Linked DNA regions of Homo sapiens: region 2 is linked to region 1. Evidence: fine-mapped expression QTL. Tissue or cell type: whole blood. Region 1 holds a variant in brackets; the other region holds the start of a gene. All regions are shown on one strand. Distances are between the middles of the regions.

The links. PIP is the estimated chance that this variant, and not a neighbour inherited with it, causes the effect.
Region 2: SUCLG2 starts here. The variant in region 1 is fine-mapped to the expression of SUCLG2 in whole blood (INTERVAL, PIP above 0.99).

What each region holds. Positions count from the first base shown.
Region 1 is chr3:67,448,484-67,451,170 of GRCh38, forward strand. The region is part of intron 9 of SUCLG2 (succinate-CoA ligase GDP-forming subunit beta); the gene reads right to left. Among named protein-coding and RNA genes, the nearest start is that of SUCLG2, 200 kb to the right of the region's middle. The variant C/CT (reference allele first, on the strand shown) is at 1,071.
Region 2 is chr3:67,653,217-67,655,903 of GRCh38, forward strand. SUCLG2 (succinate-CoA ligase GDP-forming subunit beta) reads right to left here and starts at 1,396. Exons shown (of 11, transcript NM_003848.4): 1 at 1,287-1,396. The coding sequence starts at 1,370. SUCLG2-DT (SUCLG2 divergent transcript) reads left to right here and starts at 1,481. Exons shown (of 7, transcript NR_109992.1): 1 at 1,481-1,886. RefSeq lists a silencer at 1,008-1,687 and an enhancer at 1,203-1,702.

The DNA of each region.
Region 1 (2,687 bases):
AAGTGATTCTCATGCCTCAGCCTCCTGAGTAGCTGGGATTACAGACATGTGCCACCATACCCAGCTAATTTTTGTATTTTTAGTAGAGACAGGGTTTTGCCATGTTGGCCAGGCTGGTCTCAAATTCCCGACCTCAGGAGTACCTGAGATACCAGCTACTTTTTGTTTCAAAAAGTAGATAACAATTAAAATATTAATATGTTGCTTTAGCAGTTTTACTTCTAACAATTTATCAGAAATATGAAAGTTCATAAGGACATATAGCTGGTACTAGGAAACAATACACTTTTACAATGTTTAAACTGCATGAAAAAACACTATTTCTGAATCAAGTGTAAAAAAGGTTTTTTTTTCTTTTCTTTTAGTGGGTAAAGTCTAGTTATTCTGACTGCTTATCATTATTACTGTTGATTCTGGTAGTGAAAAAAAACTTTTGAATTCCATTGAGATAGTAATGAACACAGAATTGTAACAATAGACAGATGGAAGTAATATAAAAACACTGTTGAATTTGAATATTTCTTGCTTTTTTGCTTTCACAGAAACACATTATTTTACATTTACTTTATATAAGTGAGGTATTTTATGGTGTTTTCTAAATTCTATTAAGAACATTCTAAAAAGAAAAGGTGACTGTGACAGACAGATTAAAATCCAATCCACAGGCAGTCCCCTTTGGCAAACCACTCTGATTAAGTGGCTCTATTTTATTTCAAGAATATATATCTCTTGCCCCTTTAGGAAATATGTGAATGTTTTCCAAAAGCAAGTAAAGAGTGCCACATCTTAAGCACTAGAAAGCCTATGAGCTTTATCTGGGATCTTTGCTTTCATAGGCTTGTGAAGAAAATCTGAACATGCAGACAGGCAGTCACTGTCACATATTGAAGTTTAACAGTGACTAGAGGAACTATAAAAGCCCAAAACTCTATATTCATTCTGCAGTCATACAAAGAGCAGAGGGTGAATAATTTAACTTCCAAAACAATTAGTCCAGTCCTTTACTTCAAATTCTTCAATAATCCTCCTTTTCCTATAGCAGTCATCAGACATGTACATAATACCTCTGC[C/CT]TTTTTTTTTTTTACCACAACAGTGCACACTATCTGTTTGCTATTTGCTGAATATTTTATTTTTATTTTATTTTATTTTTGAGTCATAGTCTCACTCTGTTGCCCAGGCTGGGGTGCAGTGGCGTGACCTCGCTCACTGGAGCTTCTACCTCCCAGGTTCAAGCAATCCTCACGCTCAGCCCCCTGAGTAGCTGGGACTACAGGTGTGTGCCACCATGCCCAGCTAATTTGTGTATTTTTAGTAGAGATGTGGTTTTGCCATGTTGGCCAGGCTGATCTTGAACTCCTGGCCTCAAGTGATCCACCTGCATGGCCTCCAAAAGTGATGGGATTACAGGCATGAGACACTGCACTCGGCCATGCTGAATATTTTAAAGCTTAAATACATTATTTGAAAAGAGAACAGTATCACTATCAATACGAAAAATAACATATTAATTCCTATAAATTGAAGATAATAAAATACAAAAAAACAGTATTTTTTTTAAAATTAACTAATTAATTTAGAGACAGGGTCTTGCTCTGTTGCCCAGGCTGAAGTGCAGTGGCATAATCATAGCTTACTGCAGCCTTGAACTCCTGGGCTCAAGCAATCCTCTCGCCTTATCTTCCCCAGTAGCTAGGACAACAGACACGTGCCACCACACCTGGCTAACTTTTAAATATTTTTTTGAGATGAGGTTTTGCTATGATTCCCAGGCTGATCTCGAACACCTGGGCTGAAGCGATCCTGTCACCTCAGCCTCCTGAGTGGCTGAAATTACAGGCTCAAGCTACCAAACCTGGGAAAATGTACAATAGTTTTATTAAATTGTAACTAGATACAGGCTGCCAGTGGCTCTGAGCCAAAGCAAAGTGTTTAAGCCATATTGGCACCAAGAGACTTTCTTGAGATTTTCTGGAATTGAAAAAGAACTAAAGAGGGAATACACTTTCTCAATTTTCCCCAATACTGTATTGTGAAAATTTTCAAGTATACAGAGAAGTTGAAAAAAATTGAACAGTGAACACCTATATGCCCATCATCTAGATACTATCATCTGGCATTTGCTGTATTTCCTTTTTCAGACATCATCTTTCTATCCATTCCTCTATGGAGAAATCAAGGCTATTTAATTTAATATTGTTATTTAACTACCTAGAGGGAGTTCTCTCAAGAATCACCAGGTCCCAATCCACAATTTTGGAAAGACTATTGTAAAAGATAACAACATCATTTCCCAGGCCTTGGCCCATCCCAGAAGGCTTGCTACTGTATCTGGCCCATGGCTATCTTTCTTCCTTATCTCTAGTCCCTAACACATAAGTGCAAAACTAAACTAACTCTGCTTGCCATAAAATGCCATTCACAACCTGGCCCTAATTCACTTCTTTGGCCTCATGGTATGTCCATCAGGTAGCGTTTATTGAGCGCTTACTCTGTGCTAGGCCTTGTCCTAGGAATTTCACTTGCTTATCTCATAAAACCCTTAAAACAGTTCTATGAGGAAGGTCTTCCTTCCTATTATTCCCAATTTATAGGTGACCAAGTGATAGCAGTGTCTTATAACTGAACAACTCAACACACTGTCCAATTTTTGCAGTGGCCTCCACTCAGCCCATGTACATTTCTTCTAA
Region 2 (2,687 bases), 200 kb after region 1:
TCTTGTTTTTTCTAACACTTAAATAATGAATAGGACTTCATCTCCTAGAGCTATTCTCCTTACTCTATTACAACAGTTATTAGTGAGTTTTAATTAGACAAAACTGCCATTCCTTTTGCTACCTCACTATACTGTCAAGCACCTATTAAGAATATTACAGTAGTAAGTATTAGCACCTTTTAAATTTACATTAACAATAACAGAGAAATGGGGAGGCAGGAAATGAAAGGAGAGGGGTAAAAATAGCTCACAGATGTCATAACCAAAGTTTAGAGGAACTCAAAAAATCATTAATCACTATTTTTTAAATTTTCTAAAAAACTATACTATGCACATCCTGGTTAAAATTGTATGAGTGATAATTTGCCTCTCATCAATTAAAAATGGGGAAATAGGCAAGGTCATTAACTCTGCTGTGGCTGAATCCCAGACTGTGCTTTCTTTAAAAGGGAAGAGAGATAGTCTACGGAGACTAACCAGTTCAGTGGTTGAGTGATTTCTACAAGAGTCATCACCAACTCAAAACTTTCCTGAAGTCCTTCTGACTATTTTAACGCTTGCCATCTGCAGAAGGTAAAAATCTGCTAGAGGCCAAGTTCCAATCGCTATCCAGCCCACCACTGACCCTCTTTGATTTCATTCTCCATCAACAAGGAGGACATGGACAGGGTCAATGGTCTAATGCGTTTTAGTGACAGCCCTGATTTTTCATTGGAAAGAGGAGAAAGATCGTTTCCCATTTTTCTCCTTGACCCACGGATTTGACCAACTCAGGCACATTAAAAGTCTGCAAAAGCAGGTAGCCTGCAGGAAGTTCACCCTAGGGGGTGAGTTCCTAGTTGGGCTGAAACGGGTTTCCAGGCATGTTTATCACGTGGTCTAAACGTGCTCAGGGTTAGTGCCAGAAGTTTGAAAAGCAGAATTAGTAGAGCTGACAATAAAACCTCAGGGCTCCAAAACCCGGTCCAAGAAACTTTTCTTAAACTTGCGTCCAGCGCCTGCTTCAGCGCCTTCGCCATGAGTCTGCGCGGGCAGACAGCGGAGACTCTAGTGCGTTGGGTCGCTCATACCCCGAGGCACCCGGGGCTGCCGCCGCGCCGCCCCTGCCCCACACTGGAGCGGGGTTCCCTGCTGCGCCTGGACCCGGCGCCGCGTCACCTCCCGAAGTGGGGCGCCCGAGGGGCCGCGCAGGGGGTCAGGCGGAGACCAAGAGTAGCAGGGGGCGAGGGAAGCCCGGGCAGGCCGGCGCCGCTGCTGGCGCCCGCAGCTCCTGCCCCCACGCTCACCTGGGACCCGGCCGCCAGGAAGCGGGGCCGCAGCGCTAGGGCTCGCAGAAGCTTCCCGGCCTGCGCTGCTACGGGGGACGCCATCTTAAACAGGAAACTCGGCACGGGGCAGTAGGGCGGGCGCGGGCAGGGGAAGGAGGCGGAGGAGGAGCAGCGGGAGGAGGGGTCAGAGGAGAAGCGGGCGCGGGGAGGAAAAGGAGGAGGAGGCAGAGGCGGTCTGGGCCGGGCCGGGCCTGACCCCTGCGTCCCGGGGGCACAGGCGTTCTTAAGGCTGCAGAGCCCTGGGTCCCCCACCCGGCCCCGGTTCACTTTGAGCGGTCCCAAGGCCTGAGGGCCTACTGTCCAGTCCCCAGGTTATCGTCCTGAGCAAAGACAGACCCCGAGCCCTGCGGTCTTGGGGCTCAAACAGTCCCTGGATGGCCAAACAAGCAAATATTCGCCATGGCAGTGGGTGCTGGAAGGGTGGCTCACGGAGCTGACGCCCTCCGCAGAGAACCGTGGTCTAGTCCTGCGGTCACGAGGCCTATCTGGGACAGTGGTGTTTGAGCTGAGACTTTAACGAATAGAGACAGGTGAGGTTCCTGCAGCCCAGGGCTTCAGGTGAGTCAAGGAGAGGCCATTGGAGGCTCTCCATCCCTTAAGGAGTTGTGGGTGTTTTGTTTTGTTCTATCCTTAACCTAAAATCAATGTAAAGCTGAGAGATGAAGCCGGGTGGGTCGGTTGGGGACTTGGAGAACTTCTCTGTCTAGCTAAATGATTGTAAATGCACCAATCAGCGCTCTGTGTCTAGCTAAAGGTTTGTAAATACACCAGCCAGCCCTCTGTGTCTAGCTAATCAGGTGGGGACTTGGAGAACTTTTCTGTTAGCTAAAGGATTGTAAATGCACCAATCAGTGCTCTGTGTCTGGCTAAAGGTTTGTAAACACACCAATCGGCACTCTGTAAAAACGCACCAATCAGCGCTCTGTGTCTAGCTAAACGTTTGTAAATGCACCAATCAGCACTCTTTAAAAAGGGACCAATCAGCACTCTGTAAAATGGACCAATTGGCACTCTGTAAAATGGACCAATCAGCAGGATGAGGGTGGGGCCAAATAAGGGAATAAAAGCTGGACACCGGCGCCAGTAGTGGCCCCTAGTTGGGGTCTCCTTCCAGGTTGTGGTTGCTTTGTGCTTTTGCTTTTTGCAGTAGCTCTTGCTGCTGTTCACTGTTTGGGTCCGCACTATCCTTATGAGCTATAACACTCACCACAAAGGTTTGCAGTTTCACTCCTGAGGTCAGGGAGACTGCGAACCCACTGGGAGGAATGAACAACTCCGTATGCCCCACCTTCGAGGGCTGTAACACTCACTGCAAAGGTCTGCAGCTTCATTCGTGAAGTCAGCGAGACCACGAACCCA